Regions from separate parts of the Homo sapiens genome. Here region 2 is linked to region 1. The links come from fine-mapping of genetic effects on gene expression. Tissue or cell type: whole blood. Region 1 holds a variant in brackets; the other region holds the start of a gene. All regions are shown on one strand. Distances are from middle to middle.

What was found. PIP is the estimated chance that this variant, and not a neighbour inherited with it, causes the effect.
Region 2: it holds the start of TTC21B, and the variant in region 1 is fine-mapped to the expression of TTC21B in whole blood (TOPMed, PIP 0.97).

Annotation. Positions count from the first base shown.
Region 1 is chr2:165,877,792-165,885,702 of GRCh38, reverse strand. TTC21B (tetratricopeptide repeat domain 21B) reads left to right here. Exons shown (of 29, transcript NM_024753.5): 26 at 1,685-1,909; 27 at 4,904-5,024. Among named protein-coding and RNA genes, the nearest start is that of TTC21B-AS1, 52 kb to the left of the region's middle. The variant A/G (reference allele first, on the strand shown) is at 4,832.
Region 2 is chr2:165,949,960-165,957,870 of GRCh38, reverse strand. TTC21B (tetratricopeptide repeat domain 21B) reads left to right here and starts at 4,095. Exons shown (of 29, transcript NM_024753.5): 1 at 4,095-4,186. The coding sequence starts at 4,166. It overlaps LOC102724058 (a long non-coding RNA gene), which reads right to left and starts at 453. Exons shown (of 4, transcript NR_110598.1): 1 at 279-453. RefSeq lists an enhancer at 3,331-4,080 and a silencer at 3,845-4,244.

The DNA.
Region 1 (7,911 bases):
GTAAGAGAGGTTATTTTTAATTGTGTAGTGTAGAGGGAATGTGGGACCTTTTCATAGGACCCTCCTCCTCTTAGGCTGTGCTAGGACCTGGCTGACAAATACATAGCAGGCCTCTATCTTCTCTCCTCTCCTGGCCCACCTGAGGTGGGCTGAGGTGGGGAGAGGGTGAGGCTCAGTAATTGGTAACATCCCACACTTCTTCATAACCTACAACCAGTTGGTTGGATTTGACACTCAAACCATTTTGCCACCCCTTACCTAGAGGAACAGATTATATCTTGGAAGCTTATTGATAGATACAGAATTTGAGGCAAGGAAGTTTTTATATTTCTAAAAGCTGTTTTTATAAAACCCTGATGTATTGCCCTTCTCTATTCCAGAGTTATTTCTTACTTCCAAAGATCAGTTGGACATTGAACATTTTACCACTCTCCTTTTGCAGTATTCCTTATGAGTTACCCAAATTTGCTATCTTATAGTATACTTTTATTATAGTAATGGTATCACCGTTCCTCAGTCACAATTTCTTACCCTTTGTTTTTGTTTTTATTTTGAGACAGTGTCTCATTCTGTCTTCCATGCTGGAGTGCAGTGGCACGATCATAACTCACTGTGGCCTTGAACCCCCAGGCTCAAGAGATCCTCCCACTTCAGCCTCCTGAGTAGCTGGGACTACAGGGGCTGGCCACCACACTCAGCTAGTTTTTCTTTTGTATTTTCAGTTGAGGCGAGGTCTCGCTATGCACTAGCCTCAGCCTCCCGAAGTGCTTTGATTACAGACATGAGCTGCCCTCCTGGCCCCTTTATTTGTATGTTAAGCTGAGGCTTCTTTCTTTATAAATGCATCATAATCCCTCTGCTGAAATTTAGGAAGCATCCTACCTTAATCAGGAACATACACATTATTGCTTATGAAAGTTAGTTGTCTGGATAGATCACTAATGGCCTCCATTTTATGAGTTCTCATTAACCTATTGGTTTCACAGAGTGACATTCTCTGACTTCAAACTCTATCCAAAAGAATATCATATAGATTGTTTTAGGAAGCTGCAGACTCCAAATCTAAAAGCATATTTTAAGGCATGAGTTTATTTCATATACTTTCCAAGTGGTGAATTAATTATATGCCTTATTTTTAACATTTCGTTATTCAAACTTTATTGGGAGAAGAGGTTTTTGGATAAAAGGAGAAGGGAGGGGGAAAAAAAGCAATAGAAGTCATAATGGGTAAGGACCATCATCTGCAGGTAAATTATTGTTACTCGTCTTTGACAGGTGAAAGAACTAAGGAGCCTAAATGTTAAATCTGAAATACAAACTGCTCAATAAGGATTTTACTGAAATAGAGTTTTATTTTTTCTGTTTCTATACAAAACTAAAACATGACTGTTTGAATCCCATTAAAGATAAAGTCTCACTAATTCTTGGAATTGTGTGCATATGGCATCTGAATAGTTGTCATTATCTTCAATTATCTTGACCACACAGTGCTTGACCAAGTTTTCTTCATAGTAGCTTGAGGGTACTTGATGTGTTAAATAATGACCTGTAATCACAGTTATCTGTAATGGAGCTAGAAATAGAATCCACAAACTAGTTCTTATGTAGCATTTTCTGCTTTCTGTATGTTTTTGGGGCATTTATGTTTATGCATCTTATGGTCTAAAATTTTGTTTTCTTATAGAAGGAGCATATCCCAGCGCTCTTGGGAATGGCAACGGCTTATATGATCTTGAAACAGACTCCACGAGCCAGAAACCAGCTGAAGCGTATTGCGAAAATGAATTGGAATGCTATTGATGCTGAAGAGTTTGAGAAGAGTTGGCTGCTACTTGCTGATATTTACATTCAATCAGCAAAATATGACATGGCAGAAGACCTGTTAAAACGGTGCCTGCGTCATAATAGAGTAGGTGATTGAAGAGTAAAAAATAATTATTGACCTTTGTTGCATAAGCTTTCCATATAGATATTGTTGAGTGTTAGTCCATTTCCAAGGATTCCTGTGTGATTTTTGAAAATTAAATGTTTATTCTTACCACAATCAGGAAACAAGCATTAATAATAAGAAAAAAGCCATTTGTCCTTTAAAGTTTAAAAAAAAGAAAGATTTATGCAATTTCAAGTTTCAGCTGTAGTGATGCCCTACTTAACGGAAAGTGTTTTTGGAATGTCAAACGATTGCCTGTGATTATCCATCTCATCCCAGAACTAATGAAAATTGCAGAAGAACATTAATTGCGGACGTCTGTCCCTCCCATTAAGAAATACTCTTGATGAATTTACTGCAGCTGCATGTCATTTTCTCATTATTAGAATCTATTATGCATAATATATTTTGTGGGAGAAAATCTTTTCAGCTTTTAATTTCATTTGTTTAATAAAAATTCCTTATATTTAGGTATAAAATTGAATATTATAAAGTCCTTAGAATTTAAGGCTTTTTACTAACATTTTGATGTTTAATTACAAAAGATGTCATTATAACAGTTCTTTAAAGTTAAGATTTATTTTTTTGTTGAGAAATAATTGCACACAACTTAGAAATGATATTTATCTTCATATATTCATATCAATTACTTCAAAATCTTAATCACAGTAAATCTGTTTTATTCTCATTGAGCGAATTAGATTACAAATGGACCGTTTATTTTTTAAAGAGGAATTGTGATTATCTAGTACTATTAAGATACTTTCCTAGGAACTTAAGAACCTGAAAGATCCAAGCATTTGTCAATTTATGCACTATTCTAGACGATTAGCTACATAAATTTTATGTTAAATTGGCTTTGAAAAGCCGAATGCTCATTAATAGGCTTTGAAAATCTAAACTGCTGAATAGTTTACCCTTCTATATCTAGTCTAGGATTAACCAAGATTGCATGAGAATTTCAGTGCACATACAATTTCAGTTTGCCAGAACGCTGATAACAATACATTGCATGGTTGAACATGATGGCTGCTTTAGAAGCTTCATTCAGCCCTGCTGGTTGAATATGTTGATATTGAAAGCATGATATTTAAGAACTAAAGCTTAGGAAACTTGAATTACATAATTTAAAAAATGGAAGTCATCCATATCTGGGGCAGGAAATGTACAAGACGACACTAGACTGTCTTGCCATACCAGATGATGAAGGAAGCTATCCATGATGATTAGAGTTTGTGTGAAAGATCTAGGGGCCAACTTAAAGACACCTCTAGTAGCCGAAGTTGGGATGCTTTAAGTATTGATAAGAATGATAACTGCAATATATTGAAATACATAAAATCTGTTTAAATCCATGACTTCTCGAAGATCCAAAATAGAAAAAACAAAACAAACAAAAAACCTAATTGGTAACCACTGCAGTATGCTAGTGAACTGACTGCTATTTCTAAAGCTTGCAAATAAATATCCTGCCTTTTCTGTACAGAATTGGTTAACCAAATAGTCAATGAGACGTTTCTCATCATAGACATTTTCCAGCTAATTAATGAAGAAAGACTGATAGGCTATCCCCATTTTTCAACCCTGATAAATTTATATATGGATGTAACATCACAAAAAGAGGGAGAATCAGACATTCTGTGCCTCCCAACAGAAGAACAGACATCTATGGCAGGGCTAGGGTTGGGATGAGACAAGTGAAACACTTAGTAATCAAGATAAATAATAATTTAATGCAGCTGTGCTGAGCTTTATTGGAGCCTGAATCAAAAGGGAATATGTGCATTCCTATATTCATATTTTTATGTTTTTTAAAAAATGGGTAATTGGTAATGGTTTTAATGAAAATATTACTGGTGAGATTTCTTCCATTAAAGTGAGAAAAGTAAAATGATAAGAAATTAAGTTTAGGTATAAATAAAATGTTCAGTCTTAAATGTAGTGATTTTTAATATATACTTTCAGATTTTTCAATATTTTTAAACTCATATTCTGGAAAAAAATTACAATTAAGAAATATACAAAAACATGCATCCATGTTTTTATGCCTCAGTGTGGCTTATCATAGCACTGATGTTTGAAGTAGATTCACCTCTCTCCTCCAGAATCAAAATTGAATCCAAACCTCTACATCTAATTACAACTTCCAGAAAACGTCAGTGACATAGGAATATATTATATAAACACCACAAGGATGCAGTCAATTAACCTGCGTTGTGAGAAACTCGGGGATAAATATTCTTGTTTCTATTACATTTAATTTCAAGAAAAGAGACACAGAGAGACAGACAGACATACCAGAAGGGAAACCTCTGGATCAAGAGACTAGATCAAAACATTGACCAGTTACAATGTTTGGTCCTTATTTCAGTCCTCAATCTAACAAAAACAAATTATATTGAGACAATTAAAATTTAGACAGTACTGGATATTTGGTGCTATTAAGGAGTCATTAACATTTTAGGTGTGATAAAATTGTGGTTCTGTTTAAATAACGTCTTTTTCTTTTACAGATGCACACTAACACATTTAGACTTAGTTGATACAATATCTGAGGATTTTTTCTGGTAATACAGAAGGGTAGGTTTGTGAGATAGAGGTGAAACAGTATTAGTCAAAAAATAATTATTGAAGATAAGGGTTCATGGAGTTCATTATGCTCTTATCTCTGTATTTGTATGTGTTTAAATCACTCATAATAGTGTACCTGTGCTTGTGTAAAACACAAGTGCCCTATTGTGTATTTCTGATTCTGTAAAGAAAATCCTGATTCTGCAGATATGTGATGGAGACTTGCCATCAGAATCATTTATTAAGTTCAGTAAAAAATTTGATTGCCTAGCCAAGGTTGAAAACCATTGTTTGATTTGTCATTTAAATGGGTTGATATGATTGACCTCT[A/G]TAGTCACAAACATCCCATAAAATCTTAGTGATATCAAGTTTAATCTATTGATGTCTCCCATTTTTCTTCAGTCTTGCTGCAAAGCTTATGAATATATGGGATACATTATGGAAAAAGAGCAAGCATATACAGATGCTGCCTTGAACTATGAGATGGCATGGAAATATAGCAATCGGACAAATCCGGCAGTAGGTGAGTTTGGCAATCACCTAGATTTTTCACAGAAAAATTATGTTGTATTTATTAATTTTCATTTAAATGCATTTGATTTTTTTCAAAACAAAATAAACATTGAGTCAATTTTCATTGTCAACCTTTCTGAAAGGAGAATAAATTTTATATTCATAATATATTATTAGCTACTAATAGTTCAGTTTCCTGAGTTCCAAACTTGTCCTCAGTCACTTAGTGTACATCTAGTCTAATTCTGCCCCCTTCTCTTCCTTCTAAAAGAAGGTGCTATTTTGAAATTGGGAATGCCATGGAAAAAGATGTTTCCATTGCCAAGTAAGTTAGGAAAATATTGCATTAAATTGAATTACACAGGTTTCTTTACTTCTCAAAGCCTTTAAACACTAACGTATATTGCGATGGATATCACAGAGGGGCCATGTTTCCCACAATTATTTGACCATGGGACATTTTTTTTTTCTCCTGAGCATCTAGAAACATCATCCAGTCCCAGGCTGGATGTTGCAGGCTGTTAGTTTGGGTAATGCTAGTCTACAGTGTCCCTAACAGAGGTGGCATCAGAATATATGTCATGACCAACCTCTCTCCTCATACGAGGGAGCTCATCCTCATGTTTGTGTACTCTTTCTTTGTATTGGGTTGAAATATGCCTCCTTGAAACTGCCCAAGTCTGTTTTCCGGAGCAACTTACAGAATGCCTCCCTCTTACAGATCATGACCCTTTAAATTGCAATCTTCAGTCCTGTGTCCTAGGACTTGTCTTCAAGCCATCTGCAGTTACTTGTCCATTCTTCCTAAGATTGGATTCCGAGTCTCTCATCTTCCTTGTTGCTGTCTCCTGGAAGCTCTAAAATAGTGTTTCCCAAACTGTGCTTTGGAACAGTTGGGGAGATTTTAATAATTATTTTTTTTTTAATTAAAAAGAATGAAGTGTGAAGGTGGTAGATGCCATGGCCATGTAAGTTTGGAAAGTGCTGTTTTATTTTTCCATGCCCCTCTGACCTGTTGTACCATAAATGAACAACCTCTCAAATATGATTTGGCTTCTTATAAGTATAATTAAGCTATTTTTTTCTTTTGATTAGGCAATTTGTAGTTGTTAATTCAGCCTAAGATGGCATCAGTCTTTTCAGCAGCCATGTCACCGTGTGAATTCGATTTTGATTTGCAGTCAAATGAGTCAACCTCATACTAACTGCTGTTAGCTCAGGTCTTCCCTCATCTGTTAGTTTCCTGGAGTCTGTTCTCATACTATACTAGACTTGTGCAAAGCACAAAAACTAATGATTTTTATAGTATTTTTTATTCTAAGGTGTGATATATCTTTCAGAATAAAGTCATCTGGTAAAATGAAAAGTCCTTAAATATCCTTAAAATATTAATTTTGACACTTTATTCCATAGAAGGAATGCACATAGAAGTTAAATTATTTATATATTCCATTCCTTGGAAGACCTCAGCAAATAAAGAGATTCCAAATGACTAGTTCTTTCATTGTGTCATCATTGTATTTTATAGATTATTTTATCAGTTCCTCTAGCTTTGCTTTGGTAATCATTTCTTTCTAAGGCTCTCCATTAATTCCTCAATTTCATCCTTAAGATTGTCATTGCATCTAACACCCTCAATGTGCCTGGCCAAATAAACAATGTATTTCACTTTTTCAGTTGTCAGAAAACCCTTAAAATCATGCTCATGGCCAGGCGCAGTGGCTCACACCTGTAATCCCAACACTTTGGGAGGCCGAGGTGGGCAAATCACCTGAGGTCAGGAGTTCGAAACTAGCCTGGCCAACATGGTGAAACTCCGTCTCTACTAAAAATACAAAAATTAGCCGGGCATGGTGGCGGGCGCCTGTAATCCCAGCAACTCAGGAGGCTGAGGCAGGAGAATTGCTTGAACCCGAGAGGTGGAGGTTGCAGTGAGCCGAGATCACACCACTGCACTGCAGCCTGGTTGACGGAGTGAGACTCTGTCTCAAAAAAAAAAAAAAAAAAATCGTGCTCATGCTCTTTCCATAGAATTCAGGGTTGAATATTGTCACTATAAGAGGCACCAGGATGAATGATGAATGGATAATTTGCTTGACTGCAGTAATCATTTATAAATAAATATATATACACACACACACATATATCTACACACCCACATCTACACACCGACATCATTTTGTATATCTTAAATATATACGAGGAAAAAAAGAAACACACTAGGAACAACTGAGATCCAATGAGAGAAGAAACTACTCATGTTTCACCCTTCATACCTATTCTCAGGTTATAGGACAGTCATTAGACTGTGTAGAATGTTTGCATTCTCTCGCTGTCTCTCCTGATTGCATATAGTTGAGTTCTAATAAGTTTGGCAGGTGTAGTGCAGCTGCAGTGCACATTTTCTTTCCCCTTCTTAGGTCTTTATTTCCTCTGAAATTTTTGTACCAGGTCATGTATCAAGTTTCTTCCAGTGTTAAAATTCTGTGATTATAATATAGTGAATGCTTACATTAAAAAATGCTAATATTTTGTGGTATTCTAAGGTTTTAAAAACCATTTCACAAGTATTTTATATGATTTTTAAAATTATACTAAGAGTTAGAGGGAGGAGTTGTTATTCCTGTTTTAGCGATGAGGAAACCTGAAAATGACAGCTCAAGCCACTTGCGTAAGATCCCAAAGCTAGTCAAGAAACCACAAACCAAAACTGAAATCTTGACTAGTTCCCATGTAAGTATGTTTGGCATGACATCTTAAAAATTGCTTTACTTTTTGAATGTCACAAACCCTTTTAGTTCATTTTAGAATTTGTTGGTAATGACATTAAGTTTACCTCTCTGAAACTTCTTATTTTTGTCTAAAATCTGAGATGTGAGATTCTGCCATAGGCCCTG
Region 2 (7,911 bases), 72 kb before region 1:
ATGCTGTAAAACTTTCTAAATACTTATGTGATCAATACTGTACTCTGGAGTAGTTGGGAGTACAAGTGATTATAGGTAACAGTAATTCAGTACTTACCATACCCCTAATACTGCTCTGTACTTTAAATATTAACTTATTTAGTCTTCTTAACAATTTTCTGAGGTGTTAGTCTGATATTACAGCTGAAGTATACAGAGAAGTTAAATAACTTTTTCCAACTGAATAGCCAGTGAATAGTAGTATTAATGAGAGGTGACAACCTGCTAGCAGCACTCACTCGCTCTTGGCGTCTCCTCGGCCTCGGTGTCCACTCTGGCAGTGCTTGAGGAGCCCTTCAGCCCGCCGCTGCACTGTGGGAGCCTGTCTCTGGGCTGGCCAAGGCCGGAGCCGGCTCCCTCTGCTTGCGGGGAGGTGTGGAGGGAGAGGCGCGGGCGGGAACCGCGGCTGCGGTTGGCGCTGGCGGGCCCGCGCGAGTTCCAGGTGGGCGCGGGCTCCGCCCGCCCCGCACTTGGAGCGGCGGGTCGGCACCGCTGGCCCGAGGCAGTGAGGGGCTTAGCACCCGAGCCAGCAGCTGCGGAGAGTGCACCGGGTCCCCCAGCACTGCCAGCCTGCCCCTGCGGCGCTCGAATTCTCACGGGGCCTCAGCCGCCTCCCGCGCGGCAGGGCTCGGGACCTGCAGCCCGTCATGCCATGCGCGAGCCCTCCCCTCTCCCGGTGGACTCGTGCCCAGCCCGAGCCTCCTCGAAGGGCGCCGCCCCCTGCTCCACGGCGCCCGGTCCCATCCACTGCCCAAAGGCTGAGGAGTGCGGGCGCGTGGCGCGGGACTGGTGGGCAGCTCCGCTGCAGTCTCGGCGGGCCGGGAACCGCTAGGTGAAGCCAGCTGGGCTCCTGAGTCAGGTGGGGACTTGGAGAACTTTTATGTCTAGCTAAAGGTTTGTAAATGCACCAGTCAGCACTCTGTGTCTAGCTGAAGGTTTGTAAACGCACCAGTCAGCACCCTGTGTCTTGCTCAAGGTTTGTAAAGGTACCAATCAGTGCTCTGTGTCTAGCTAATCTGGTGGGGACTTGAAGAACTTTTGTGTCTAGCTAAAGGATTGTAAATTTACCAGTCAGCACTCTGTGTCTAGCTCAAGGTTTGTAAACACACCAATCAGCATCCTGTCAAAACGGACCAATCAGCTCTCTGTAAAACAGCCCAATTAGCTCTCTGTAAAGCAGACCAATCAGTAGGATGTGGGTGGGGCCGGATAAGGGAATAAATGCAGGCCACCTGAGCTAGCAGGGGCACTCTACTGGGGTCCTCTTCCACTCTGTGGAAGGTTTGTTCTTTTGCTGTTTGCAATAAATCTTGTTGCTGCTCACTCTTTGGGTCTGCGTGCGTTTATGAACTGTAACACTCACCGCGAGGGTCCGCGGCTTTATTCTTGAAGTCAGCAAGACCAAGAACCCACCAATTCCGGACACATTAAGGTCTGAACGAAAATGACGTATTTCTGGAGACGAAGATGTTAACTGCTACATTATATTATCTAGCTTTATAGTGCTCATCATCTGGTAGAGAACATTAAACAAAAATGCACTATAACTAGTAATACAAGGACTATGCAAGTGTAATAAGTCTTATAGAGCAGGGGTCCCCAATCTGAGGACTGCAAATCAGTGCTACACAGCAGGATGGGGTATACAGCAGGACGGGGTACACAGCAGGAGGTGAGCTGCGGGGCAGGAAAGGGAGCGTTACCCCAAGCTCCACCTCCTTGTCAGATCAGCGAGGCATTAGATTCTCATACGAATGCAAACCCCATTATAAACTGTGCATGTGAAGGATCTAGGCTGTATGCTCCTTAGATAAGAATCTGATGATCTGAGATGGAATAGTTTCAACCCGAAACCATCTCCCCTACCCCTGTCCATGGAAAATTTATCTTCTGTGAATTGTCTTCCACCAAACTGGTCCCTGGTGCCAAAATGATTGGGGACCACTGCTATAGAGCACTACGTGTTTAATGGAAACTATTGGTTATACAATGCCTATTATGTGTCAGGAAGTTTTAATATGTCTGTAAGGCATTTAGTTTCTTTAGTAAATAAGGAAAATGAGGCTTAGGGAAATTACTTCCCCAAGTCACAAAAGTAGCTAGCGTAATAGGAGCTCCACCTCAGATGCAGAAGAGGGTATTCTTGCCACTACACTGTGATATTTTTATACCCATCCAGTTATGGTGATCCTTAAAGACTTCATGAAATTTGAAATGAACTCAGAAGAAGGAGATTTTCTCAGGTGAAGAAAGAGCTCAAAACAAAGTAGGGGAAAGCATTACCAGAAGAAGGAATATTTGTCCCACTGAGCGGAATAAAGGCTCCTTGAAGGGGAGGTAGAAGATAAGGCTTGAAAAGACGATGAGGTGAAGGGTCATGGATATCAGACTCAAAAGTTTGTAGCTAGTAAAAGTGAGCCGATAAAAATGTTACTGCTAAGGAACACATCGATTTTTCAGGAAAGACAAGAGTTTTTCCTGGCCTGAGATCCAAAATAAATTTCTTACATGAGATCTAGTAAGGGCACAGGGCACACCAAGTCACCGTGAGTGTCAAAGCAAATCTCAGAGTACTTTTAATCCAACAAACATTTATGAAACATCAGGCTTGGTGTTTTGTGCTAAATAATTCAACCTTAGAACAGAATTCAGTGAAGAGAATACGAGGCTAAATTAATATGACTTTCAAGATCTCCAAAAGGTAGGTTGATCATCTGTTCTGTTAACCATGATCCTGAGATATTTCCTTACAGATGAACTTTTCTCTTATAACCAAAGGTTTACAGTTCAAGATTATACACTTCATTGAGCACCCTGGTCCTGTGGTATTCTTTGCTGTATACCAAGTGCGGATTAATCCGCAGCTTTGAAAATCAAAGAGATATCACCAGTTGTTCATCACCACAGACATTTAGCTGGACTATAAATATTGGAAAGAAAAAAAAGTTGCTCGTGAAAATACGTGGTGAATTCCTTTAAAGAGAAACCGGTGAGAAATATTGCTTCACCTTAAAGCCTAGGATGGTAGCTACCGTTTTTCTCAAGACTGTCCTTACATAACCTATTGGCATGGGGAAAAAGTCAATGTTTATAAACTCCTTAAGAAACTTAAAATCTGGAAAAGGCAACTACGTATCATGTCAACTAAAGTAAGATAATTAACACTAGGATCAAAATTTGGAATCCACGTGAAAGATTCTGCAAAGATCACTTAAATCTCAGACCTTATGCACTATTTTAAATATTTATTTAAGCAGAAATAGAAAATCTTAGTCTATTATATTTCCATTTAATTTCCTGGACTTAAGAAATCTATGTGTGACTGATTGAGTTGCCTAATGGGGTGCAAACATAAAAATTTGCATTGGGATTCATTTTATTCTCAGTTTAAAATCAGTAGTATCATTGAAAACAAGACACTAATTTTCTGGAAGTTTAATTTATTTGTCCCTCTTATTATCGGGGCTGGTAAAAAAGGGCTAATTGAACACACATTCTAACAAAGATTGCAGCAACGCCTGCAAAGACGGGCCCAAGCGCACCGTATTTCTGTTAAGAACGTGTGATTTTTTTTTTCTGCGCCACCTTGTGGCCGTAAAACAACTTGCCCACGTGAAAGTTGACCGCTTTTTCCCGCGCCGGCAGAGCCTTGCTGAGAGCCGCACTGCGGGAATCCGCCTCCAGACAAACGTGCAGAAAATGGTGTCTTCCTTTACAACCAGTGACAGGAAACAGACTTCCCCTTCTTCATACTCCGTTTCCTTTATTCCTGAATTCCATTTCCTCGGCCCGCCCACCCACTGTCCTCAGACAGCCGTTTCCCAGTGTGACCTCCTTTTCCAGCTGCACTCTCCGGCGGAGGCCCTTTTCCCAGCCCGGACCCTCCCGGGCGGCCCTCGCAGCCCTCACCTCCGGGTCCCCGCCGCCCCTGCTCCATTACAGCACGATCCCCGCCACACAGGCCCGCCTCTCCCTCCGACAGCCAATCGCGGCGCGACCCCGCCCCTCCCGCTGGGGCCCGGGGCGCTAGAGCGCTCCGGGAGGCTAGGGGAGCTGAATTCTGCGTCTTCCTTTAGGCTGCGGCGAGACAATCCCCAGAGCCCCGCGGCCCGGCCTCGGGGCAGCCATGGACTCGCAGGAATTGAAGGTGAGCGGGTGAGCGGGTGAGCGGGTGAGCGGGCGGGCGGGCGGAGTTCCTTTGCGGCCTTTTGGCCCGGGGGCGCGGAGGGAGCTCGGGTGGCTTCGCTAGGCCGCTGTTTCCCTGCGGTGCCCCGGCTGCTCGGGTTGCGGGGTGGGCCTGCAGCCTCTGCTCACGGCCGGTCTCCGCGGGCCCTGCTGGGGAAGCCCAGGTCTGGGCAGCCCGCCCGCTCGGTGTTTCTGAATTGCTGGTCCCCATGCTGTTGGTTGTGTTTACTTTTGTATCATGTTTACTAGGAAAGCTTGGGTTACCTATGACACTGCGCCTCCGGGTGCGATTTTTAAGGACTTAAGGCAAACTAGTGTCAGCTCCCACACTGGACAGTAAAAAGAGCGCAGAAAGATTATATGAAACCCATTAAAGACGTAAGACTTAAAAGTGGAGGGGTCGTTATTTTAGGGTGATGGTCTTCTCTGTTTATCACTGACTCATTCATTCAGCAAATATTAATGACGGTCAACTTAAGAAAGGCTGATATAAAACAGTTAAAGACATGAGGCTTGAAAATAAAATAACTTTTCGGATGTTGGTCTTCTCTATTCATTTGTTCACTGAATCACTCGTTCAGCAAATATTTATGAAGGGTTACTGTATGTCCATTAGAAGCTGGAGATAGCAGTGAGCAAAACTGAACAGTTTCTGCCTTCTCAGATTTTACAGGCTAATTAATGCTGGGGAAAAACCCTAATTCAGTTGACTCAACAAATATTTACTGAATGCCTCCTATGTGTCTAGCACTGTTCTAAGCACTGAAATAATAAAACCAAGAAAAACTCTTCCAATCTTGGAGCTTACATTTGAGTAGGAGGAGTCAGACAACAAGTAGGTAAATGAAATGTGTATCCTGTGAGATGGTGATAAGTGGATGGAGGACAATTTGGCGATGTAGGAGGTTAGGGAATGCTGAAATGTCTTGTTTTTCTGCCTGAAGTTTTACATTATCCTCTGTTCTAGCTATCCCCCTATATCCTTACATTTTTTTATTCCCTTAAATGTATTATTTGCACTGCCACCCAAATGAACATTTTAATAAAAACACTTTAATGTAAAATGTAAAAATGGGCCTCCTCATTACTTAGACTTGAGGTTCAAGTCCAAGTACTTAATATGAGGCTTTTCACCCCACCTTCGTCTCCAACCTCATCATCCAATACTCTCTGTCTCACTTAAGCCTCCAGAGCAGAGAATAGCAAACTTTCTCAACAAAGGGCCAGATAGTACACATTTTAGACTTTATGGACCGTATGGTCTATCACATCTAATTGGCTTGTTCAAAACAGCCATAGACAATACTTAAATGAGCATGGCTGTGTTTCAATAAAACTTTATTTATGAACACTGAAATTTGACTTTCATGTAATTTTCATGTTATGAAATATTTCTTTTTTTTCCTTGACAGCTGGAAAATATAAAAACCATTCTTAGTTCACTGGCTGTACAGCCAGCCAGCCAGATATGGCCCACAGAGTGTGGTTTGCCAAACCCTGCTCTAGAGTATGGAGTGGCTTTTAGTCATCTTCATCACCACTGCCATCCCAATGTACCATTGATGACTTGTTATCTGTGTTGTTGCAGTTCCTCTTCCTAACTCCTGTACCTTCCTCAAGAATCATGAAAAGGAAATAGGAAGAGCGTGTACGTGTGTGGAGGGAGAATGAGGGGTTTGCAATTCAAGAGTCAGCTCTGAAATCCTCCCCAATAATCTTTCCCTTGATTTTAGTCATCCATCCTCCCCTCACACCACATTCAGTTTTCAATGCTGTCAAAATGTTGCTATCCCACATTCCCAAAGGAGTTTATAAGCTCTTTTCTTACATTTACTACATTATATTTCAGTTAGTCTTCAGATTACAGTCTCATCTGAAAAATGTAGGTTTTCCGGGGGGACAGGAACCATGTCTTACTCATTTTTCTATTCATAGTAGCTAGCCCAGTGCCTGGGTACTAGTAGGCAGTCAGTAAATGTTTTGGATTGAATAACCTAACCTGAACCAAGGCAGTAGCATTAGGTATGTTTAGTGGGAGGTAGACTGGAGAAATAGAAGAACCTACTAAGTGGTTAGACTTAGAGAGACTGGGCAAATAGGAAGGGAGGATTCATGAGTAGCAGGGTAGCAGGTGGAAAATGGAAATATGAATCTGGAACATAGACAAGAGGTCTTGGCGCAGGACACATTTTTTTTTTATTCCATTAACATATGGGATGCAGAGGAACTTATTTTTTTCAGAATAGAACTCTTATACTATGATATCTTAATTAATTCTCACAGTGACCTGTACATTTGCATTACTAACAGCATTTTATAAATGAGCAGACTGAGGCGTTGTAAGAAGGACCAGAGATTCTTTTTGCCTTTAAATTCGCGTCCTTTTTATGGTGCTATGCCACTGCCTTTCAGGAGGATTATAGATGCTTAGTGATAGTGTGCAGAAGTCAAGTAAGGTATTAAACGTGTCCTTAGTTGTGGCAAAGTAAGAAGTCATTCTGCAACTTTAGGGAATGGAGCATTGGAGGAAAACTGTGTTTCACTGAAATGTGTTGTGGGGGTCTGGAGATGGGGTATGGAGCACACTTTTAAGAAACATGGCTAAAAAGGAGGTTAGGGAGCAGTGATCACAAGGAGGGAGGCAGAGTAAAATTACAGAGAACAGTCGCCTAACTGATCTAGAGAAGTACATGGACTATAGCCCTCCAGAAGCAAGAGACTATATAAAACAGAGCTGTCGGACGGGCGTGGTGGCTCACGCCTGTAATCTCAGCACTTTGGGAGGCCCAGGCGGGTGGATCACTTGAAGTCAAGAGTTCAAGACCAGCCTGGCCAACATGGGGAGCCCCATCTCTACTTAAAAATACAAAAATTAGCCAGGTGCGGTGGGGTGTGCCTATAGTCCCAGATCAGGAGGCTGAGGCAGGAGAATCGCTTAAACCTAGGGGGCAGAGATTGCAGTGAGCAGAGATTGCGCCACTGCACTCCAGCCTGAGTGACAGAATCTCCAAAACAAAACAAAACAAACAAACCAGAGCTGTCTAGATACCCTTAGATTTCAATCCTGTCACTTAGTCACCTGTATTTCTCACTGCTACTGAACAAGCTGTAGAGTCCAGGTAGGTAGGTATGGGGTGGCCCAAACTGCTTTCTGGTGAATCAGGTGTATCCTAGTGATGGTGGGAAAGTGTGGTTTCTGTCTTTGATGAGGTTAGCAACCAAGCCTTAGACATAATCGTAGGAAAAATGGTAGACAGCACAGGCCCATTTTTATTCAGAAGTTAGTAGGTCCTGATAGTAGTTTTGTCTTGTATATGGAAATAATATAACTTTGGAAAAAGCTTAAAGACAACGATTTTCATTGAAAAATAGTTTATTTATTCTTAACTGACAATTTATTTGTCGCAGAACTCAAAGCCGAGTAAGATAACATTTGATGATATGTTGAAGAATTAAATTTGTCATTACTTTGTAATGCTGTAATAAAATACTGGATATTTTAAAAAGAAGATTTTTTTTTTTAAAGAAACCTATGGTCTGGCAATGGAAGCCTCTTGTCTTTTTTTTTTTTTTTTTAGTTCCTGTTTATTGTCTGCCTTTCTGTTTTCTAAAACGTTCAAGAAAATGTGGGCAAAGGAAAAAAGGTGAAAGCAGCCTCATTTCGGTGCTGTTAACAAAAACTTAGGA